Linked DNA regions of Homo sapiens: regions 1 and 2 are each linked to region 3. The links come from fine-mapping of genetic effects on gene expression. A gene starts in region 3. Each other region holds a variant in brackets. All regions are shown on one strand. Distances are between the middles of the regions. Region 1 overlaps LOC105378565 (a long non-coding RNA gene). Region 2 has its middle 5.2 kb from the start of PPP2R2D. Region 3 holds the start of BNIP3 (BCL2 interacting protein 3).

The links.
Region 1: its variant is fine-mapped to the expression of BNIP3 in whole blood (TOPMed, PIP above 0.99).
Region 2: its variant is fine-mapped to the expression of BNIP3 in whole blood (TOPMed, PIP above 0.99).

What each region holds. Positions count from the first base shown.
Region 1 is chr10:131,866,574-131,874,749 of GRCh38, forward strand. LOC105378565 (a long non-coding RNA gene) reads right to left here. Exons shown (of 2, transcript XR_946487.4): 1 at 8,170-8,176. Among named protein-coding and RNA genes, the nearest start is that of PPP2R2D, 30 kb to the right of the region's middle. The variant T/C (reference allele first, on the strand shown) is at 3,943.
Region 2 is chr10:131,891,740-131,899,915 of GRCh38, forward strand. It overlaps the pseudogene LOC100134362. Among named protein-coding and RNA genes, the nearest start is that of PPP2R2D, 5.2 kb to the right of the region's middle. The variant A/T (reference allele first, on the strand shown) is at 4,323.
Region 3 is chr10:131,977,028-131,985,203 of GRCh38, forward strand. BNIP3 (BCL2 interacting protein 3) reads right to left here and starts at 4,896. Exons shown (of 6, transcript NM_004052.4): 1 at 4,734-4,896. The coding sequence starts at 4,779. RefSeq lists an enhancer at 4,075-4,999 and silencers at 4,407-4,636, 4,867-5,166, 5,217-5,406, 5,447-5,566.

The DNA.
Region 1 (8,176 bases), 110 kb before region 3:
TGACAGAGCGAGACTCCACCTCAAAAAAAAAAAAAGAAAAGAAAAGAAAAGAAAGAAATCCTGGCTCTGATTTCCTGCAGGTGCACATGCTGCAGAGTGAGTTTTACAGTGGGTTTGAAGTTCAAGAAGGATCGATAAAAAAAAATCCAATTCAAATATGGGTGAAAGACTTGAATGGACATTTCATCAAAGAAGACACACAGACGGCCAATAAGCCCATGGAAAGATGCTCAACATCACAAATCATCCAGGAAATGCAAATCAAAACCACACTGAGATACGCCTCACATCTTGATGGCCACTACCAAGAAGACAGAAATTAGCAAATTAACTACCCATATTCCGTAATTGCAAAGTGCTTCTGGGCAGAGCAGATCAAGACAGCCACGCTCATTAAAAATTCCAAGCGACTCCACACGATTTGCTGACCCTCGCATTCATTCTTGCCTTTTCTGTCCTCGAGTGTTGGAAGGGATGTAGAGTAATTGGAGCCCTGCGCACTGCCGGTGGGGGTGCAAGACGGTGCTGCTGCTGTGGAAAATAGTGTAGCTGTACCTCACAAAATTAAAAACAGAATTTCCATATGATCCAGCAAATCCACTCCTGGCTTAGCCAGGTGCGGTGGCATGCACCTGTAGTCCCAGCTACTCCGGAGGCTGAGACAGGAGAATCACTTTAACCTGGAAGGCGGACGTTGCAGTGAGCCAAGATTGTGCCATTGCACTCCAGCCTGGGCAACAAGAGCAAAACTCCGTCTCAAAGGAAAAAAAAAAGTCCACTGCTGGGTATATACCTGAAAGAACTGAAAGTAGAGGGTCTCACACAGATCTTTGCACACCCATGCTTACTGCAGCACCATTCACAACAGCCGGAAGGTGGAAGCCACCGAGCCCATTGATGGATGTGACTGGATGAACCAAATGTGGTCTCTCCAGACAATGGAATATCATTCAGCCTTAAAAAGAAGGAGATCCTGACACATGCTACAACCTGCACGAACCTGAAGACATTGTGGTGCGTGAAATAAGCCAGTCACGAAAGGACAAATACCGCATTACGCTACTCATGGAAGGAAACTGGAGTACTTGAATTCATAGCGAAAGAAAGCAGAGTGGTGGTTTCCAGTGGCTGGGGGTGGGGAGATGGGGAGCTAGGCCCAGGGAGAGCGGAGTGGTTTGTGGTCCTGTTCTAGAAAAGTCTCTATTTGGCCAGGTGCAGTGGCTTACTCCTGTAATCCCAGCACATTGAGAGGCTGAGGCAGGTGGATCACTTGAGGTCAGCAGTTCAAGACCAGCCTGGCCAACATGGCAAAAACCCATCTGTACTAAAAACACAAAAATTAGCTGGGTGTGATGGTAGGCACCTGCAATCCCAGCTGCTCAGGTGGCTGAGGCAAGAGAATCGCCTGATCCTGGGAGGCGGAAGTTGCAGTGAGCCATGATCATGCCACTGCACTCCAGCCTGGGAGACAGAGCAAGACTCTGTCTCAAAAAAAAAAAAAAAAAAAAAAAGAAAAGAAAAAAGAAAACTCTCTATTTGACCATATTAATAGGGTTCTTTACCCATGGGAAACCTATGTGGACTCTTCAACTAAGGACTTTTTTACAAAAAATAGACTGATACAAGCAAAAGGACTTTGGAGCAGCCTTTGAGTCTTAAAACCTGGTAGGTGGGTTTTACTCCCCATGGAGGAGTTGAAAGTCTTGTCCTTGCTGAGGGAGAGCTGCCACTGCTCTGTCCAGGCCTTGGGAAGAGATTGCAGAGGTTTGTTGAAAAGCTGAGGGCAAACGGGGTCATGATTCACCAGTGGTTCATAATAAGAGTCGTCGTAAATTTCATCCTAAATCTACTTAAATGGAGATGAGGGGAAACTGATTCACGTGAAGAAGAATCAAAGGGAAGGTCTGAGGAAAGGTGGTCTCGCCAACGCGGAGGTGGTGGTCGTACCTAGCCACCTGCCTCCCGCTGCCCTTCAAGGCAGCCCAATGCTCCCAGCATGCACAGGGGTGGCTGGATGTCCCCTCCCCAGATTCCGGGGTTCTCCCAGCATGCACCACGGTGACCTGGACCACTGCTGCAGAGAGAAGGGTAGGCCAGCTGTAGGGAGAGAGAGATGGCCGGGCATGGTGGCTCATGCCTATAATCCCAGCACTCTGAGAGACCGAGGTGGGAGGATCACTTGAGGCCAGGAATTCAAGACCAGCCTGGCAACATAGAGAGGCCCCATCCCTACAAAGAGAGAGAGAGGAGCTCTAAGCCATCTGCTAGAGGTGCACTTTCCCAAGCACACAGGCCTATTGCATTTAAATTTCTTTTTTTTTGAGACAGAGTTTTCCTCTTGCTGCCCAGGTTGGAGTGCAATGGCACGATCTCGGCTCACTACAACCTCCACTTCCCAGGTTCAAGCAATTCTCCTGCCTTAGCCTACCAAGTGGCTGAGATTACAGGTGCCCACCACCACATCTGGCTAATATTTTGTGTTTTTAGTAGAGACAGGGTTTCACCACGTTGGCCAAGCTGGTCTCAAACTCCTGACCTCAGGTAATCTACCCGCCTCAGTCTCCCAAAGTGCTGGAATTACAGGCATGAGTCACCATGCCTGGCCTAAATTCAAATTAATTATAAAGAAATGAAATCTGAAAATCACTTCTTCAGCCACACCAGCCACATTGCCAGTGCTCAGCAGCTCTGTGTGTCTAGTGGCTGCTGCACTGGGCAGTAGAGACCTAGAACACTTCATCTTGGTGGGAAGTTCTAGAAGGTTCTATTCACAGAGCTCTCCTGGGGGTAAAACTTGGATTCTGACCTCAGGGCCACATTCTCCCAGCCTGGGAATGAAGGTCCCAGATCTGGAGGATTGGTTGTTTCAAATCTACTTCAAGGATTGCACAATCCCAGCAGCAAGAGGAGAAACTTGAGAGGACTCCGCCTTCCTGCCCAGATGCGGGGTGGACGCTCCCCAAATACTCCACAGTGTGGAAGTCAAAAATGAAGCTGCAGCGGTGCTGGTCTCCCAGGAAAATGGAGGGCAGCTTCAGCCGGGCTCGGAAGAATGACGTTGTTGGTGAGTAATCTCAGATGACGTAAACCCACATTTACTAATAAAATCTCCAGCATCATCCATATAAGGTAGAGTTGACTTTTCACCTCCTAAAGCCTTCATAATTGCTCTTATTTTTATGCTAGAATGTTATCTCTGTTGAAATGTTGGGTTTTTTGCATCCTATTAAAAGTGTTAATAAGCTGTGTTTAAGACCTTACTTTGCAATTATGTTGAGCCAACTAAATAAATCAATACTGACTTTCAGCCCATTTAAGGAGTAAAATTGAACTCCTGCTAATTTAACAAATATTTTAAAAATCAGAGTTGATGAACATGTTAATGTTGTCCAAAATAAGTGTATTTAATTTGTGGTGATAAACATGAGGCCATCACCCACCAATCCTTCGGCAGGGAGGTGGGGAGGACACAAGAACGGGGGGCAGGCAACAAAGTGCCTTTGGCGGGGCCAGGCTGCGGGGCCTTCCCACACGCCTGTCCATGGTTTCTCACTCATCTGAGAAGCAGCATTTTCAAAGCACTGCCTTCCCCTTGAATAAGCACATGTCTAGCGGAGGCAAGTGCAGGTGAGCTCTGTGGGGGTCCTTGGGTCCCCAGGACCTGTCTTGCCAAATACTTTCCACAGCTCAACTCACCAACAATATCCCCCTTTCTTCCCCCGACATGGCACATGCTGTCATCTTTAAAGGGTAAAAATGAGCCCAAAGACTAAAACCCAGATCAATTCCCAGGCAAAAGCTTCAAAACCTTCGGATTGTCATGTCTTGAATAAACAACAGAAGTTGGTTTAAATCAAAAGGTCTGAATGGCTGAAGCTGAAGCCACCCTCCAGCCAGGGGAGATTGAGGGGCCAGGCAGGGGCAAGCCTGCCCAGGACCAGG[T/C]CCCTTCACCCTCACCTGCTGGGATCACACCAGGGAACACGGCCTGGAAACGGAGGCTCTCCAACCCGAGCAACTCGTCCAGGATCACCCAGGGAGTAACTACGGGGCCCATTGGCCAAGCTGGGCAGGATGACACCTGCCGGGGCTTTCCCCAGATTCTGGGCAAGTGAGCTTGCTGCACCAGGGATCTGGAATGTGGCCTGGACCTGCCAGCCACACAAAGAAAACGTCCTACGAAATTTATTAACTCTTTTTTAATGCCAATATTTCACTATGTATAACATACTTATTCATTTTAATATAGAAAACAATGCTTCCGTGAGTTGTCATGGAGTAAGATCGGTGCTCCGGGAAGATGCATGGTTTTTATGCAGATTATACATTGTGTATACATTGTGTATACATTGTGTGCTTCTGTTATACAGCGGTGAGGGAAGCCATCTGGCCTGGGGCTGGATTACAGATGGGAGCTCCACCCAGCAGACGGAGTTGGCGAAAGACACACATTTTCTTTTCCTGGCATTAACTTCTTATCAGCCTAGATGGCAGGATTAGGGATGAGACAAGGATGCTTCCAACGAGAGAGCACCCTTACTCACACGCCTTCCCATGAAGCACACTGCCCGCAAGTCACAGGGTGCGGCCCGGGGCCCAGAGCATCCATGCCTCCAACTCGTGGAATCACATGTCCTTCCTGGCAAACTAGTGACAATAAACAACATGTACCATTCTAGACCACCATTCAAGTCCTCAAATATCCTGCAAATGCACCCAAATTACTCTTTTACTGTTATTTATATTATCTATGGAGTCTCATTTTTCCAAGTAAATTATTCTCTGCTTGACTCTGATATATTAGTTTGAAATGACAAGTATTAAAACAGTGAACACAAAATGAGCTCCCAGATAAAGACAAATGAATCTTCAGGTCTAGTGATAGAAGTTCCTGGAAGCCTATTTGAAATCTGTGTACTTAAAATATCAGGTGACTGAGAGATGCAGTGAAATGTAATGAGTCACACTCCGTGCTCCTTGGAAGCGTCCTTGTGGCAGGAACTGTGAGGTTACACAGCACCAAGGGGTCTCGAGTGTCTACAGCATGGGGCACTCACTATTCTCAGCTGCAGATTTCAGACACCCTCACAGGCTGAGTCCAACCAAGAGGAAATCGGGAGCCTGGGCCCAGGGTCCATGCAGGGCCTGCCCTTGGGTCCTGCAAAGGTTTTCTGACCAGCTGGGTGTACCAAGCTCTGGGGAGACGCCGGGGCTCCAGGGCTCACAGCCGGGAGCAGGAGTGGGCCGTGAGCCAACCCTCAGGGCAGGATGCTGGACACCCAGAGGAGAAACTTGGTGGCACAGAGGGTTCTGGAAAGTCCTCCCGGGGACTAGAGGTCGGAACTGAGTTCGTCAACCTGTAACCAGAAGAATCAGAAATCCCTGCTGTCTCAGACCAGTGGGGTCTCACCATGACAGGGAGCTAGGGGACAAGAGAGAGAGGAGAACGTGGAGTCTTTCCAGCTCTGGAATCAAGAGCAGGGTATTAACCCCTGACTTCAACGCGGGAGCCTTTAGTCCGAGCCGGGGACACAGGCACACAGGCCCCATTCCCAGCAGCCAGAGCCCATGGCAAACCCGGAGCAGGCCCGGGGGTCTCTGTGGTCCCTGAAGGCGGAGACAATGGCAATCAGTGGGAGCCCTGGCCAGACCCCAACTCAACTCACCCGAGGCTTACATAGGGGATCCTCTGTGAACGAGCACCCCCAGAGAGGTGGAGGCCCACCCTGGCCCTCCAGGAGAACACAGGGCAGCGTGCTGTGTCCTGGGACATAATTCTGGTCCCTTCCCTTTTGTTTCCCAGATAATGTCTTCCCAGGAAGTCCCTCTCGCCACCTCCACCCCACCCTCAAAATGCCAGGAGCCCGCGTGGGTTTCTGAATCCACCACTGTCACTCTTGCTGCCACCGGGTGCCACTGCTGTAGACAAGTCCCCTCAAGGACGGGGGTCCCTGCAGGTCCTCAGCGGTGCCCATCCCTGGGCTCTGGGCTTAGTGCTTCCTTCCTTCGTGCTATGGCCACAGCCACCGCCCCAAACACTCCGTGCATCAGGGCGGCCTCACAGGCCCAGGCGTCACCATGCCTGCCGAACCCGCCTCCTACTCAGCCAGACCCCAGGCTCTCCCTTCCCTCAAGCACCCTGTGATGTCCCCGGGTCCTGCCCTGCCTGGGATCTAAGTCAGGGCCCTCCTAATCCAACAGAGGAGCTGCCCGAATGCTGAGCCTCACGAGGAAAAGATCTCTAACTGGATCCCATCCTCCAGAGGTTCCCAGGCTGTCATGCCCTCCCGGGGACCTCAGTGAGGCAGCGCTGGTCCGTGATTCCATGAAACCAAAGAGCCTGCTGCTCACTCCCTGGAGCTGCACATCCACTCTTACTAACCACACGGGGGAGAGGTCCCGGCTCGTCCTCGTGCTGCACTCCGAGCAGGCAGGAGCAGGGCAGCCCAGGCTTGCCAGCTCCCTCACAGAACAACCTCAAGTGGCTGTGGCTAGGGAGCCCAACTCCAGGTTCCACCCCTGCTAGGGAGCTGTTTCCTGAGTCAACAGTGGTACCGAGTGTGACCGGCATGGGGGGAAAGCGGGTCACGCAGCAACCCTGGACGCTGGCTTTGGAAGGGGTGGACTCTGCTCCTGGGCGCTGTGGGGACGCCCTCATTCCCGGGTTGTGGCAGCACTGAGCGGAGGCCTGAGGCGCTGGAGCTAGTTCTGGACAGCACCTGGCCACTTTCCCCTGCACAGCCTGGCATGTCCGCACCTGCACCCTGCAACCACTCCCTACAGGAGCCCCTTCAAAGTCAGAGGATGCCGCAGGCTTTGAGTCTCCTCAGTAGGGGACCCCCATAAACAAGGAGGCCTGTTTCTATAATCAGAGCTTCCTGGAGCTCTGGAATTCAGAGCAGACATTAATTCTACTTTTTTTTTTTTTAAGACAGAGTCTTGCTCTGTCACCCAGGCTGAAGTGCAGTGGCGCAATCTCAGCTCACTGCCATCTCCGCCTCCTGGGTTCAAGCGATTCTCCTGCCTCAGCCTCCTGAATAGCTGGGACTACAGACACATGCTGCCATGCCCAGCTAATTTTTTGTACTTTAGTAGAGACAGGGTTTCACCGTGTTACCCTAGCTGTTCACGAACTCCTGAGCTCAGGCCATCCACCAGCCTCGGCCTCCCAAAGTGCTGGGATTACAGGCGTGAGCCACCGTGCCCGGCCAACGTTAATTCTTTAATTCAACAAACGTGTATCTGGTCTACCTCGGAGCTTGGGGGGAATTCCTGGGAGGCCGGGAAGGACAGGCTGAGGCCAAGGACATGGTGCTCAGGCCAGGCCCAGTGCCATGCAGGGAGACCTCAGAGGCTCTGACCAAATCCACCAGGAGAAAGCAGAGTGGCCCAACCACGCCCACCCCAGAAGGAAAATGCCTCAGTGTCTCTTTCCTCTGTGCTAGAAAATGGCTTTGTTTCCCTCAGGGCGCTGGAACCGGACCCCGTGCAACTTCTCCCAGGAAACTGGTCCCCGTGGCCCATCTGGGAGACCCTCATTCCTGCATCCTGACACCTGCTCTTCCGAGGGGAAGATTCCACGGAAACAAACTCCTACCCCCCAGCTGAGACCCCTCCACCCTTAGACTCCATTCTGGGGGCTGGAGCTTAGAGAGGCATCTCCACACTCACCCAGCCGATGCTTCCCTGGCTGGGGGTGGGAGGGCCCAGGGTTTGGAGGGCAGCCCCCGAGGAGGTGCACACTCACCTCCTGGCTTCTTCCTGGGAGGCTCAGCAATGCTACACATGCCCAGCCCTGCTCCAGAAATGCAAAGTTGAGGGACCCATGGAAACGGTGGAGGTGTCCGTGTAACCAACAACACATCTGCAATTGCACCCGTGATTTGGCAAACCTACTTCTTTTCTCTTAATTTTACTGGCCGGATTTGGTGACATCAATAAGCAAAGCTCTAAACCTAACATCACAAAACCTTTTTGAAGACTGAATCGCGACAGAATCTCCCACTTTCTTCTTCACAACTCGAGTGGAAACCAGATTAACATTTAAAATGAAATAGTCACGGAATATTTTAATAGCATTTCTCAGAGACCAGAACTTTGTTCCCTAGTGGCCAACCCAGGAGGAAGATTTTGTGTCCAAACTCAGGAGAAATGAGCATTTTTTTTTCCTACCTGTTTC
Region 2 (8,176 bases), 85 kb before region 3:
AAACTGAACAGTGAAGGCTTTGAGAGTGTGTCCCCTGGTTCCGTGCGAAGGGCCACGCCCAGAAGAAAAGGAGCTGCTCCACCCAATGGGAGGAGTCCGGGGAAAGAAAAGGGGACAGGGTTCGGTTCCCCACAATTCTACTCCCCTCCAGCTATCTGGGAAAGGACCTCAGGAATGCATGCCTCTGCCTCTGCCATTGCAAGGTGAGGTCCAAGGGCCATGCCGCCAGGCACTCTGGGCTTAACCTTCTGCATAGAAGACAAGAACACCAAACTCCAGGAAGGTGGGATTCCTTCCTGGTGGCTGGGCTTGGAGGGAAGCTGGGAACCAGAGAGAGGGCCTCGGTAGAAACTGCCGGGAGGCTGCTCCAAGGGCAACTGGGAGAAATCCGAGGGGAGCAGAGCCTACAGCAGCCACGCATGTGGAGAAGAAGACAGGAAATCCTTGAAAGAGAGAGCTATTGGGAGGAAGGGCTAAGGAGTTCACATGACGTGCTCCCCTGGCCAATCTGCAAAGGTCAAGGATGGGGCGTCAGGAGCGGCCCCTCCAGCCACGGCACAGGATCCACTGTGTGTTCCCCGCAGCACCGGCGAAGCAATCAGCCACAGCAGCTGCGTGGAAAATCCTGCCCCACCACCATCCTCTTGTCCCCACGCACGACGATCCCGGGAGGCAGTGACCAGAGGGTTCAGTTTCCAGGTCACTGCATGAGGGTGTCCTTCTTGCCAGGCAGAGCCAGTGCTGAGGCTCCCCTGCAGCCTCCCCACGCCATGGACGGTGGAGTCGGAAGCATAAAAGCCCCAGGACTGCGCCGTGTTTAATAACATCCAGACTCGAGGTCACAAGCCCCAGCCTCAAGGTTAGAACTTACCTTAAACTGGACTTCGATTCTTGGTGATTGTGAAGCCTTAAGCAAATTATCGAATCCCTCTATGCCCCAGTTTCATCATCTGAAAAAGCAGGATGACAATACTCAGCTCGTAGAGCTTTGTAAGCGCTGAATGAGGAGCAGGTGAAGTGCTCAGTGCCATTCTGGACACTTGGGCTGTGTCCAGGGTGCCGCTAAGAGCACAGTCGACCCCTCTTCATACCTGCACCTGCCAGCAGCTCACAAGGTGGCCCCTGCTGAATAAAAGCAGGGGCAATTAGTAGTGGACTGCTCATACACGGCTATGGTGTCAGCATGTCAACGTGAATCAATGACTGAACAAGACACCGAGGCTCAAGGACAGCAGGGGACAGCAAGATGAGTGAGTCTATGAAAGCCCGCGTATTTCTGCATGTACACGTACTTGCTTTCTTTCCCTGCTGTAACACATTACCGCAATCTTAACGGCTTACAACACCTATTTATTCTCTCACAGTTCCTCAGGTCAGAAGGCCGGGCAGTTTTGCCTGACTGGTCTTCTGCTTAGGGTGGTGGGAGCCTGAAATCAAGGTGACAGCAGGCCCACGCCCCTTTCTGGAGGCTCTCGGACTGAATCTCCTCCCAGACTCTTCCAGGCTGTGGTCTGAATGCTGTTCGTTTGGTCAGATTCCCATCTTCATGCCGGCTCTCAGTCAGGGGCTAGTCTTGGCTCCCCGAGGCGGCCCAGGTTCCTGCTCATGCCCTTCACGCACCCCTCCACCACCCGCCGGCCAGGTCCCTCTCGTGCTCTGATGCGCTCTGACTCTCCTTTCTGCTGAATCTCTGACTGCAGCTGGAGAAAGTTCTCGCTTTGAAATGCTCACACGATTAGATTAGGCCCGCAAGGATGATCCAGGATAATCTGCCGAGGTTAAATCCTGGAACTTTAAGGCCATCTGCAAAGTCCCTTTAGCCATGCAACGTAACATAGCCACAAGTTGGCTCTGGGGATTGGGGCATGGACATTTGGAGGGTCATTATTCTGCAGACCACACACATGCACACATCTCTCTTGTTCCTGGAACACCGATGTTCTCTCCACCACATTCAATACAGCGTGTAGAGATTTTTTTTTTGTTTGAAACAAGGAAGGAGTGCAGAGGAAGAAAGGGGACAGGCAAATGCCCCCAGGCCGGAGAAGAAAGGCCCAGGAGACAGGAGCAGGTGACTGTGGGGTTTTCCTTCTCAATTCACAACACAGGGCTAGTCACATCCTTCCGTCCATCCCTCTCTTCCTACCTCCCTTTCTTTTTTCTGTTCCTTCATTTCTTCCCATCTTTCTTCCCTTCCTTCAGCATGTGACAAAAATATGAGGATCGGATCTTTTCTGGCAGGAGGAAAGAAGAATGATGGGATGACATCTAACGCCTTGCCGGGCTCCAGCAGTACGAGGCAGCCATGTGTCAAAAGTCAGAGACACAAACCAGCACGTGCCCCTCTAATCACAGAGTCTCAGTGCAGGTCCTCCTGCCATTGCTCTTCCAGCCAGCCCACAAGCCGGGCAGACAGGGTGCCTCCGCCTCCTATTAGCAAGCTTCTAAATGTGGTTTGTTTTCCATGGAAAGATTGCACATCCTACCAATAGGCTACATCTATGATAACACTGAGATTGTTACTAAGTCTGAAATTGAAAATAATCCACATTTGGTATTTTCAAATAATATTTAGTAGTTGAAATCTAAATAAATCAAAATTATTTTAGGCTAGGTGCGGTGGCTCACGCCTGTAATCCCAGCACTTTGGGAGGCCGAGGTAGATGGATCACTTGAGATCAGGAGTTTGAGACCAGCCTGGCCAACATGGTAAAACCCTGTCTCTAATGAAAATACAAAAATTACCTGGACGTGGTGACACACACCTGTAATCCCAGCTGCTTGGGAGGCTGAGGCAGAAGAATCCCTTGAACCTGAGAGGCAGAGGTTGCAGTGAGCCAAGATCGCGCCACTGCACTCCAGCCTGGGCGACGGAGCGAGACTTCGTCTCAAAAAAAATAAAAATTAAAGGCCGGGCCGGTGGCTCACGCCTGTAATCCCAGCACTTTGGGAGGCTGAGAAGGGTGGATCACGAGGTCAGGAGATAGAGACCATCCTGGCCAACATGGTGAAACCCTATCTCTACTAAAAATACAAAAATCAGCTGAGCGTGGTGGTGCACATCTGTAGTTCCCAGCTACTCTGGAGGCTGAGGCAGGAGAATTGCTTAAAGCAAGGAGTCGGAGGTTGCAGTGAGCTGAGATCACGCCATTGCACTCCAGCCTGGCAACAGAGCGAGACTCTGTAAAATAATAATAATAATTTAAAAAAAGAAAATTAAATAAAACATATTTTAAAATAAAGGTATTTGGGGGAAGTGTGATTTGCAGACTCTTAAGATATAAAGTCCTTCATAGACTTGAAGAAAATTTATGGTAAGTTAGACTTTAAAATAATTCATTTGAGCTCTTTCCTTTTGCTGCTGTGGCCGCAGCCATGAGCACGCTCAGGCTTCAGAAGAGGCTCGCTGCTAGTGTCCTCCGCTGTGGGAAGAAGAAGGTCTGGCTGGACCCCAAGGAGACCAATGAACTCGCTAATGCCAACTCCCGTCAGCAGATCTGGAAGCTGATCAAAGATGGGCTGATCATCCCCAAGCCAGTGACTGTCCATTCCAGCTCGATGCCGGAAAAGCACCTTGGCCCGCCGGAAGGGCAGGCACATAGGCATAGGTAAGCAAAAGGGTACAGCCAATGCCCGAATGCCAGAGGAGGTCACGTGGATGAGGAGAATGAGGATTCCGTGCTGGCTGCTCAGAAGATACCGTGAATCGAAGAAGCCTGATCGCCGTATGTATCACAGCCTGTACCTGAAGGTGAAGGGGAATATGTTCACGAACAAGCGGATTCTCATGGAACACAGCCACAGGCTGAAGGCAGACAAGGCCTGCAAGAAGCTCCTGGCTGACTAGGCTGAGGCTCGCAGGTCTAAGACCAAGGAAGCACGCAAGCGCCGTGAAGAGCGCCTCCAAGTCAAGAAGGAGGAGATCTTCAAGACTTTGTCCAAGGAGGAAGATACCAAAAAATAAAAGCTCCCCCGTTGTCCGTACATACTGGCCTCCGTGATTACATAGATCAGCCATTAAAATAAAACAATCCTTTAAAAAAATCTGTTTTATTGAGGTATCATTCACATACAATAAAATGGGTCCACTTTAAGTGTCTTTTTCAATGAGTCTTGACAACCATTCGTGCTGCATTAACAGCTGCGGCCATCAGGATGCAGAACACTTCCATCAACCCAGGGAGTTCTTTCCCACTCTCTCCAGTCCATCCCCCACCCTCTCCAGTCAATCCCCACACTCGTGCCCCATGCCGTTTTTTTTGAGATGGAGTCTTGCTCTGTCACCAGGCTGGAGTGCAGTGGCGCGATCTCGGCTCACTGCA[A/T]CCTCCGCCTCCCAGGTTAAAGCAATTCTCCTGCCTCAGCCTCCTGAGTAGCTGGGATTACAGGCGTGCGCCACCACACCTGGCTAATTTTTGTGTTTTTAGTAGAGATGGGGTTTCACCATGTTGGTCAGGCTGGTCTCAAACTCCTGACCTTGTGATCTGCCCACCTCGGCCTCCCAAAGTGCTGGGATTACAGGCGTGAGCCACCACGCCCAGCCCCTGTGCCATTTTTAAAATCACTGTAGAGCAGTCTCACCTGTTCTAGAACTTCAGGATTCTTCAGAGAAACCGTGTATGGAATGAGCTTTATTTTCAGGAACTCACTCACACAATTGTGGAGGCTGACAAGTTCAAAAACAGAGGGTGCACAGGGTGAGCAGGGCAGGCCGGCAGGCTAGCTCAGGCAAGGGCTGATACAGCAGCCTGGAGGCAGAATTTGTTCTCCAAGAAACCTCAGTATTTGTTCTGAAGGCCTTTGATTGATTGGATGAGGCTCACTCATATTATCAAGGGTAATCTCCTTTTCTCAAAGTCAACTGCCTGTGGGTGTTAACCACATCCACGAAACACCCTCGTGGCAATACTTGGCTTAGTTCTGATGAAATAACTACATACTATACCCTCGCTACATTGACACATGAGACTAAGTATGATAAAATAAAGGGGCGCATGCAGCTTGCACGCCTCCGTGTCTGGCTCCTTTCATTTTCGTAATATTTCGGGGACTCATTTGGGACTGCTGTTTGTATCAGTAGTAGCTCATGCCTTTTAGTTACTGAACAGTACTGCCTTCTATGATTACAATAGGCTAGATTCTAATACACACCAGGCATTTTCAATTCAGCTGTGAGATCTGAAAAACAATTTTAAAAAATAAAATTGCTGTCAATACTCAGAAACTTGTAAACACCAATTAGAATCCAAACAGAGAAATTCATTGAGCTATTAGGTTGGCGCAAAAGTCATTGTGGTTTAGCCAAATATTTTAAGTTTTTAGCATCATAAGAAGAATAGTTAAAAATCTCTTTTTAAAAAATAGTTAAAAATCTCTTGCTGGTCAGCTGATGCACAGTGGGACGCAGGGAAGGCAGCCCCCCAGTCTCAGGAATATGTTACTTTTGTGGCTATATCTTGTTTTTAGTTTAATTTAATGGGAGCTAATGAACCAGAAAATACATTCTAAACAAAAACTAATTATCTTGTCATCACTTCAAAAGACATATTTAACACACATTAAAGCAGTTACATAGGAACTAAGAATAAAATCCTACATCCCCCACTGGCTGAACGAACACCCCTGTGGCCAGGGGGGGCCCCAGGAAAACCTCAACACTGAGGCTATAATGGGGGATGGGAGGTCAGACAGGCCTCCTGATACCCCCGCCCTTTTGTGGTTTGGACACAACAGACCAGCGTTAACGTTAAACTAGAGACCATAAGACTGACAGAACGGACTCTGTGGCAGTAAGATGCCAAATCATAAACAGGGCCTAAGGCCGTGCGGGGGGAGGGTGAAGCCACGCACCGCACACTTACAGAGAAAACGTCGTTCCCACTGCTGTTGGGTTTTCCTTCCCTCCAGCAGCTAAATAAGCACTGGCCTTGATAGGAGCAACATTAAGCAACTGCAGCTCCACCAGCCACTAAGTGACCCCCAGCCCTGCTCCAGCAGCCGTAACTACAGCTTTCATTGGACAGAAGACTGTAACTGTCTCCTGATAAGAAACCACCGACCTTGGACTGGTTCTGGCCGGTTTACAGAGGTTGCACATCTGCATGCCTTCCTGTCCTGAAAAGACCTCTTGAGGTACAGGGCCTAGTCCTAATTTACTTATTTATTTATTTATTTATTTATTTAGAGACGGAGTCTCGCTCTGTCGCCCAGGCTGGAGTGTAACGGCACGATCTCGGCTCACTGCAACCTCTGCTTCCCAGGTTGGAGGGATTCTCCTGTCTCAGCCTCCCAAGTAGCTAGGACTACAGACATACGGGCGCCACCACGCCCAGCTAATTTTTGTATTTTTAGTAGACAGGGGGTTTCGCCATGTTAGCCAGGCTGATCTCGAACTCCTGACCTCAGGTAACCTGCCAGACTTGGCCTCCCAAAGTGCTGGGATTACAGTCGTAATATATTCAAATGTTTAGTCTCCCCGACAGAGTGAGATTGGGTCCTATGTTACATAATACACGTGTCAGGAGCCCCTTCCTGAGTATTCATAGCTCCTCCCAAAGCCTGTTGTCTATGTATGTTTAGCCAACCCGTTCAGCATAGAGCTCCTGCCCCAACTCCTCCTCCTACGAAGAGCCATCTCCCATCTTGGCCTGGGGGATGGCCACCTTGCTGGCTGTAACCATTTATAAGAAATAAAGTTCCTCTTTTTCTAAATTTATAAATTGTCAGGTTTTTAAGTTAACAAATAAAAGAGATCTGGTCATTAATTCAGGTTTTCAAGTGTCTTCCTGGGCAGATAGGCTAAATCTACATTTTAAAAACAAGATTACAGCCCCATTTTTCTGCTCTTCTTCTCCTCAACAGAGAAGTAGGTATTCACTGCCTCTAGTTCCTCTCCTGCCACTGTCCCCAGAGCCCTCTGCAAACTTGTGATCTGAGTCCATTCCATAGCCACCGCTCCGTCCAAGTCAGTAATGGCCTCCCAGTCCCTACAACCAAATGGTCACTCCTGTATACTCATCACATAGCATCACAGAGCAGCCACTCCCTCCTGTCTTCAGTGGATCCTGGAGATGGGTTCTCCAGGAGCCCACCTCGCAGGCTGCTCACTCATCCTCCACGTCCTCACCCCTTCAGGGCTCTGTCCTTGGTCCTGTCCCCCATCTGTCCTCCCTCCTGAGGTGACCTCACCCAGTTTCCTGACTTGAAATGACCTCTAAATGCTCTCACCTTGATGCTCTGGCTCTGACTTCCCTGTGTGCTCCCAGCCTGTCTGTGCAACAGCACTATGTGTTGACAGCGAACCTCTGGTCGGGCTGCACCGCCCCCACCCAGCTGTGCCTTCTGCTGCAGAAACTCCATCCTTCCAGGTGCTCAGACCACCCGAGAGCAGGCATTCCTAAGTCCCTGCTTTCTCTCACACCGCATCTTTTCCATCAGCAAATCCCAGGGGCTCTGCTGTCGAAGCACTTTTCTCTGAAATCTGACTGGTTCTCACCACCCCACCCCATGTTCACCACTCTATCCTCATCCCCATGCCTGGTCAGCCCAGCTGGCCACCTGATTGGTCTCCCTGCTTCCCCTCTTTGGGTCCCCACAAGCTATTCTCAGCAGAGCATCCAAAAGCCCAAGTCCATCACGATCGTCTTCTGTTCATGAGCCCATCTCATTCAGAGTCCAAGTCCCCTAAATGGCCTGCCCACTGTCCATCCTCCTCCACTTACCTCCCTGCCTTGACTCCAACCCCTGGCCTCCCCTCCACTCACTCTGCACCCACGCAGCTTCTGGCTGCCTCCTGCCCATGCCAGGCATGGCCCTCCTTCCTGTCCTGGCACTTGGTGGTCTCCCCTTCCTGGCCAAGCTTTCCTAGACGTCTGCATGGTTTGCTCTTTATCCTTGAGTCTTCTCCAGTCACCCCGTGCAAGACTCCAACTCTCCCCATACACATTTCCTTCTTCCCTGATTTTTCTCTCCAGCTCCGACTTATTATGTATTTATTTCCTTATTGTCTGTCTCCCCCACTGAAAGGTAAGCTCTACCAGGGCTGAGATTTCTCTGCTCTGTTAACCTCTCACCCCCAGGGCTGTGGAGTGTGCCGCACGTGGCAGGAGCTGTCAATAAATAATATTAATGGAGTGGACGAATGTTCCTGATTTGCAGCGACTGTCTTTTAGTGGTGCAA
Region 3 (8,176 bases):
TTTGGGAGGCCGAGGCGGGCAGATCATCTGAGGTCAGGAGTCAGAGACCAGCCTGACCAACATGGTGAAACCCCGTCTCTACTAAAAATACAAAATTAGCTGGGCGTGGTGGGCGCCTGTAATCCCAGCTACTCGGGAAGCTGAGGCAGAAGAATCCCTTGAACCTGAGAGGGGGAGGTTGCAGTGAGCCGAGATCATGCCACTGCCCCCCAGCCTGGGCAACAATAGCGAAACTCTGTGTCTCAAACAAAAAAAAAAGACACTGCTCAGGAAGCCCCAGGGGTTTAGGTGCTCTGCACCAGGAAGTAGGTAGGGTCAAGACCAAACACATACTGTAATCTATCACACAAGGGGCAGGCTGAAGACAACAGGGAGAGGAAGATGAAGGAGAGACAAGTGTATCTCTGTCATCCTCTGCGCTACTGCAACAGAATCCCACAGACTTAGTGATTTACGAACAGAAACTGATCTCTGTTCTGGAGGCTGGGAAGTCCAAGATCCACGCACCAACATCTGGTGTCGGCTGAGGGCCTTCCTGCCTCATCCCTTCAATGAGGCTACAGAGGGACCCACCTCCCTCCATCCAGCCCCTTAGAGCACTAATCCCATTCACTAGAGAGGAGCCCCTATGGCCGAGCCACCTCTTAAAGGCCCACCTTTTACTACCATCCCACTGGCAACATGGAGGAACACATTCGAACCAAAGCAGTGCTTTTTAAACATCACCCCAGAAAGGACCTAAAAATCCAGGAAACAAGGAAAAAAAACTCACTCCAGATTGTCCATGGCTAATGACTTTGGGCCCAAAAGCTGTATTCCCAGGAATGATTTACTAAGGGACAGGAGTTTTATTATTAACCCACAGCAACCGCGTAGGAAAGGAAGGCACTTCCTGGAGAATGGAGCGTGCTGTGTATCTACTCACGTGTTACAGTTCTCCACTCGGATCGTTCACCTTTTCAAAGAAAGATGGGCTTACAGTAAGGTTGCTTAATAACCTTAGAAAACTTGCTCATAATCACAAGCAGTTTACACTTCAAATCACTGTAGTATAATTAGGCCCCAGACGGAAAGGTGCTGCTGTTGCTGCTGCAAGAAAAGCCCTCCTTCCTAATCTCATTTCGCGTCCCTCTCATGTTCCTCCCCCTCCTCACTCACTTATAATTTACATTGCTAACAAGACACACAGCCAGTAAATCTTACCTCCCTCCTATATCAAGGTAGATGAGATTTTGAAAAGCCTAGACTATAAATATTTATATCACAGTACAAAAAGAAAACTGATAGGTCTGCCTCAGAGACAAAATACAGTCCAACAAGAGTTCTTAATCCATTTCTTATTCTCACTTTGTGTAAAAAAAAAAAAAAAAAATCATCTGACATCCAGCTTTTCTAGGTGCCCAAAGCAGTTCTCCCTCCAGTGACAGACTCCAGGGAATCCCTTCGATTCACTGCCCTCTGTATGTCCCAGGGCAACTCCCTGGGTCCCATTCCTCAACATGGATTCATGGGCCACAGCCACGAGCCCCACGTGGAGTAAACACAGGGCCAAGTTCTCAAGGCCACCCTATGCCCTAACCTGGGGTGACAACCTCAACTCTGGCTATGAAGGGAGAATCACCTGTGGTGTTTTTTCATTGTTCTCCAAAAGCCTAGCCTCAGCCCACTCTGAAAGTGACTATTTGGGATGCTGGGGTGGAATCCAGGCAAATAGATTGAAAAAGCTCTGGGATAAATGTCAGAACAGAGGGAGGCAGCATCCCAGAAAAAAAACCTGAAGCAGAGGAGCTGTGAACCCCCGAGGGAACTAGCACCCCAAAACCATACAAAGGGCTTCTTCCCCAGGGGAGGTGGGCTCTAAGAAATTGCTGTTTTACCTTTAAAGCTTCTCAGGTTAGTGGGGAGAGAACAAAAGAGACCCGCCTGACAAAAGATTTCAAGTATCAAGTCAGCTGGGTAGGTAAATCAGGTCCCTGGCTTCCAACGGGGCTCGTTTCCCTCCACCTTCCTGTTGCCTCCAGGACCTCTGGCCTCCTCTCCTCCAGGACCCTCCAGGGCCTATTGCACGCAGCCTCAGGCATCTGGGCTCCAGGTATCCCACTGCTGCCTCATGCAGAGACCTTGGCTTCTCCTTAAGTGTTGTTGCCAGCCTTATCTTTCACTCCACCTCTAGAACCTCATTGTGACCATCTATGAAATGCAAGTCTTGGACGAGAATCTCGATGTCTGCAACCCCTTCAGGTCTCAAAGCACACAATGCTACAACTCCACTCCAAAATAAGTAGAAAACATCTTTTCCCCTCATACAACTTTGCCCATGGTGAGTTGCCTCTGACAAGAGAGAGAACCATCTGCCAGTTGCAGACACAGCAGTGGGTGAAGAGGTGAGGGCTTGGATTATTAAACACGGCCCTCCAGAGTAAATGGGCATGCACTTTACTGAACTGATGCCCTCCTGGTGAAGACAGTGGGTCCTTCAAGGAAGTGATGCCCCCGCCACCGTGACACGGTCTCGTCACAGAATCCTACCTCTCCTGCATGTTAGCAGTGACATGTCTAGGAGAAAAGGGCCAAGTTCATGGCTACAGTGAGCTATAATGATTGTGCTACTGCACTCCAGCCTGGGGGAGTAAGACTGGGCTTGTAAAAAAAAGGAAAAGGACAAATACGAGCATCCTGCGAGTCAACAACTTTAGCTAGAATGATCAAGAGATAGAAAGGAACAGAATCAGCCCATTTTGCCATTAACTCTTTAGGAAAAGCAGTTGGCCCCAGAGGGTACACTCAGAGGAGAGAGTGCTTGCTGCTTCCATCCGTGGGTCTGGCTGCAAGGCTCCCATTGTTCTCTGTTCCGAGGTCAACAAGGGGCAGTGAAATCGGACAGGCAGAGGTGAGCGCTGCCTGAGCCACCGCTCCGTCCCGGATTTGCAGGCAGCTGGAGCCCGCGGGACCGGCCAACCCCGCCCACGCCGAGCCCACAGTGGCCCCGTCCTGCCGCGCGGACACTCAGGGCGGCCCAAGGAATCGCCTACATGGGATCCACCCCGCGGGTAACTATCTTTTTATAGAATAAACAAAACAGAAAAACAAAAATCTCGTAACTCCGGCGCTGGCCGCCTTGCACTGCCAATGACTCAGCAGCCTGTGTAAGTTACATATTGGAGAGAGGACCGAGCCCCCCGGAGCCCCCTCCACCTCCCAGCGCCCAGATCCCAGCCGGACAGTGAAACGCACAATGTCAGGAGTAACGCGGCTTCACAACCGGAAAATGGGTGATTTTATGGCAAAGAGTTTATAAAAACATCCCTTGGACTTTATTTTATGACAAAAGATAGGAAAACACCTCTTAATCTATTTCAAAATAGTAATTAGCCAATGTTTAAATTTCAAGAGGAAAAATCCGAATTACAGGATTTTAAAGAATATGGTTTTAGGCCAGGCGCGCCTGGTGGCTCAGGCCTATAATCCCAGCACTTTGGGAGGCCGAGGCGGGAGGATCGCTTGAGCCCAGTTCAGACCAGCCTGGGCAACACAGTGAGACCCCGTCTCTTAAAAAAAAAAAAAGGTAAAAAAAAAAAGCTTGTAGTGTTCATATGTATATATATATATTATTCAATATATTACGGTAACTAAGTCCTGCCTAGTAAAATCTTTTTTTTTGTAATAAAATTAGCAACTCACTAAATTTATGTGAATATATGGTTTTAAAAACTCTCAATGAAGATTAAAAGTTCACTGTCAGAGGTTTCAGCAGTCCTTTCCCAAGCTTATTTACATGCTAATTTTGCTTAGTAAACTCTGGCTTCAAAGAACACAAAGGTCAGCTGCCACCAGGTCCCTCCTCCGAGGCTTTGGCCCTAGGGACCCTGGGAAGGCGGCTTCAGTGCCCGCTTCCCTGAGCAAAGGCTCGTCTGGACTCTGACGCGGACCCACCGGGTGGGGTGGGTCTCCACGCCACCCGGCTGTGCGTGGGGCAAGTCCTGCACCCCGGGCCTGCGTTTCCCGCTGCGTGAACGGATGGTCTTGCGAATCTAGCCAAGGGCACACAGCGAGCCTCTACTCGGGCATTAGGCAGGCTGTAACGACTGAGTGCTGCACGGGCAGCGTCCTTTTGCTTGTGTTTTCTTAACCCGTAAGTCATTTAAAGCTTTGTTTTGGAACGACCCTCTAGTGAAATTGGAACATGCCCATTTAATGCCATATTTTAAAAACGCTGTAACCCCCTCCCATCTCCGCGTTCACCCTTGAGGAAATCCTAACAGTCACCATGGATATAAACATTAATAACAAAATTAAAGCTCATAACAGGCCACTTGCCACGCCTTGGTGTTTGGTCATTAAAACCAATACTGGTCTGAACTACAGACCGCGGAGGGCAACGTGGACTTTGAGGCTGTTCGGTCCAACTGCGAGACGCAGATTCACCTCCAGGTGGAATTCTAGCTCGCGCGGAGCTGGAGAATCGGGGCTTTCCCGTGCGGTCCGACCCGGGTCCAAGCCAACCCCCGCCCGAGTGGCGAGGCCGCGAACCCCGGGCAGTACGCGGGGTCCCCACGCCCCGGGCTCCGCATGCCCGCAGGAGGGGTGGGTACGGAAGGGGAGGATGGCGCAGCCTCGCCCGGCCCGCGATGCCCCCTAGGCCTCCCCGGCAACCTCCCCTTGGCGCCCTCTTGGCCTTCCCCAGGCTTCCCCCCCGCGCCCCCTCGGCTCCCGCGCCGCCTCCTCCGCCTCACCCTGCAGGCTCTCCTCCTGCATCCCGGGCGCTCCGTTCTGCGACATGGCGCCAGAGGGCAACTGCGGCGATCGGAGTCCGCGCCGGGCTGCGGGATGTGCTTCAGCTGCGGGCGGTGGGAAAGCGGAGGTCGGAGCGCCGCGGCCCAGCTGCGCTCCCGGACTGAGCGGAGCCCCGCAGCCCGGCCGGAGGAACTCACAGGGCAGGGCGGGGCCGGGCGGATCTGCGGCCGCGTCGCCCATTGGCCGCGACTTGGGGCCTGCGCGTGCGCAGGGGCGTGGGGTGCGTGTGGCACGTGCGGCGCGTGCGCGGGGCGGGTCCTGCGGTGGGCGAGGGGCAGAGGCCTGCGGTGCGCGGGACGCGGGCGGGGAGAGGGGCGGGGCGAGGGGCGCGCAGGCGCGAGGGCGGCAGCGACCGCCTGAGGTGAGCCGGCCCGGGCTGGACGCCGCGGGCCGCGTGACGAGTGGGCTGCGCGGTCGCCGCCGCGGCGGGCGGTGGGCCGGGTTCTCCTTTGAAGGGGCGGTGGGACCGGCGGACTCTCTGGGCACTGGCTACCACGGAGACGCCGCTACGCTTCGGGGCGGGGCCCGTCTTTCCATCCTGCTAGTGGGGAAACTGAGGCGCGGGGCTGGCGGCGTCCGTGCGGGGGGCGTGAGGACGTGCAGGGAAGCGGCCGCTGCGGCTCCGAGACGGCCCGTGGGGTCGGGACCTGCGCCCGGGGCGGGAGCTGCGAGCGGTGGGCCGGAGCTGAGCGTCTCGGGACGGGACCGCGTCCCCGGGTCTTTGCCCGCCCCGCCGGGGCGCCCCTGCGTGAACAGCGGGGCCCGTTGTGTCCGGGGCGTCCGCCCGCAGGAAGAAGCGGAGGCTCGAGCAGAGTCGAAAGAGTCTGCCCGAGGGAGGCGCGGACCCCAGGGGCCCGGGAGAGGCGCGCCGTCCGCCTCTGCGGCAAGGGGCCTCCGGGGTGCAAACGCGGTGTGGGGCGGGCGTCCCCGGGGTGGGACGCCCCGTCCACGGGGCGGAGTGGCGCTTGGTCGGGCCGGGTGGGTGCCCGGCTTCCGTGGGAGCCAGCCTGGCGTGGGGGCCTCGCAGCCTCGGGACTGGGAGGCACTTTTCAGAGGAAAGTCGCTTTCTCATTTCCCGCTTTTGATCAAAAGTCTTTCTTCTTGAAAGCATTGTTGATCCAAATCCAAGTGTCAAGGTGCGCCCCAGAAACGCTGCTTCCCAGACAGTCGTGTCTGGTCTTGCGGGAAAGGAGGAGGCGTCCCGCCAAGGAACCAGGCGCTCAGAAGCTGAACCGGGGTCACAGAGCCGCGAAGCCAGACCTCAGTCGCTGCGTGCATTTCATCCCTGCTCTTGCCTGTTGAATCGTCTCTAGTCTTTGGAGTGCCATGATTTTAGTTTTCTCAGGAGTAACAAACATCCAGAGGCCAGTGTGGGGCGCATGTCTTTCATCTCAGCACTTTGGGAGGCCGAGGCAGGAGGATCGCTGGAGCCCAGGAGTTGGAGACCAGTCTGGGCAATATGGCGAAACGCTTTCTCTCCCCTAAAAAAATACAAAAAACTTAGCTGGGTATGGTGGCACCTGCTGTGGGAGGATTCCTTGAGCCCAGGAGGTAGGGGCTACAGTGAGCCATGATCAGGCCACTACCCTCCAGCCTGGGCAACAGTGTGAGACCCTGTCTCAAAAAAAAAAAAAAAAAAACCGCCAGAGATACATAGCATAGCATTAATAATTTCGATAGTAGAACTGTAGTGCTGGCCAGGCAGTGGTTCTTGTGTGTAATCCCAGCATTTGGGGAGCCCAAGGCAGGAGGGTCACTTGAGCCTGATAGTTCAAGACCAACCTGGCAACACAGAAAGACTCCATCTCTATTAAAACAAAAATGTTACCAAGTACGGTGCACATAAGGATTACAATGAAAAAGAGAATGTGTATGCCAGAATGAAAAACGGAACCTATTCGAGGGAGTCAACTAAAAGTATTACGAAGAAAATCAAATGGAGAATTGTTCAGAATAGTGTAGCCTAGTGGCTTGTACTTTTTCCCATATGAGTTTCTACTTCGTGGAAAGGGTTTATGCACATCAAGAGGTATTTGCCACCATACATAGACTTGCTTGCTCAGCTAATAATCGAAAGCAATGCAGTCGTCCAGTGCAGCCTTAGCCAGTGAGTCAGTAGCTTTTTGTTGGGCTGTGATGGAGGCAGCAGTTTCATCAGCAATATTTCCTGATAGGCCAGATATGCTCGCAGTCATCCCAAGTAAAAGCAAACAAATACTGACTCTAGGTCCACTGGAATACTAAAGAAGGCACTACATAAATGAGTCACAGTGTCTCACTTCCAGCTGCCGAAAGAGGATGGGGCTTTGGTACTACCAGATGTCTGGGGATCACAGTGTTGATGACGGTTCTCAAATCTTGTACAGAATACCAGCTCTTCCCATTCGGCTTCCTTACAAGAAGGATTGGAGTATTACATGCTGGCGCAAGGAATAATTAGACCCCTTTTAATATAGTCTTTTGTTACGGATCTTATTCCTTCATTTGCTTCAGGCCTTAGAGGATATTGTCTGATATTGGGTAAAGGATTAATCAGGTTTACTTCCACTTTAATGAAAGTGGCTGAATATATTTTACTAATGTCGGTGGAAGACTCTGACCATAAGTGGTCTGACAAAGCTTGCCCTAAGCCATCCGTGTCATTAGTGCCAGTTGAAAAAAAAGTTGTTTGATCTGTATTTTTATAATTTCAGTAATTTCTCATTCTGTAGTTTTTCCATTTGCTCCTTCCATTCTAAACCTAAATCCATTTCTTCCTTTTGGGAGAAGGAAAGCATGCATTGTGACGTTCCAACACAAAATGTCTGCCTAAGAGATGTCTGAGAGGTGGGGGAATGAAGAAAAGAATGAGGGCCCTGGGATTCTAAGGGCTTGGACTTGTATCCAGTGATAGGCTGATGAGATAACCCTACCGTTTGTACAGTTCCATTACTCCAAGGAAGGAGACAACTTAAAGTGGACGAAAAGAGTGGCACCAGTGTCTTTGAGGGCATGTGTCTGTTCTTCATTTATGGCAATGTCCATTTCTCCTAAGGCATTAGTAGAAATAGGAACACCTCCCTTCGATCATCAGAGCAATCCTGTTCATCATGTGGGATCCTGGTTTTTCACTGGTCCTGCTGTTAAATTTTCTACAATCTTTTTTGAAATGGCCAGGCTTTTTACAGTAGAAGCAAACAGCCCTTTTGTCATTAGAAGGAGGCCCTGTCTTTTCTTAAAAGGCCTCATTTGGTTAGTCAGTTCTTGTAGTTGCAAATTCATAATCTTTGAGACCTTAGTTTTTTTCTTCCTTCTGAATTGTCTTAGGAAGTTGATCTGCATAGCTTACTAATTTGTGGGTTTGTATATTCACCCGGTTAAGCTGGTATCTTTTTAACTTAGG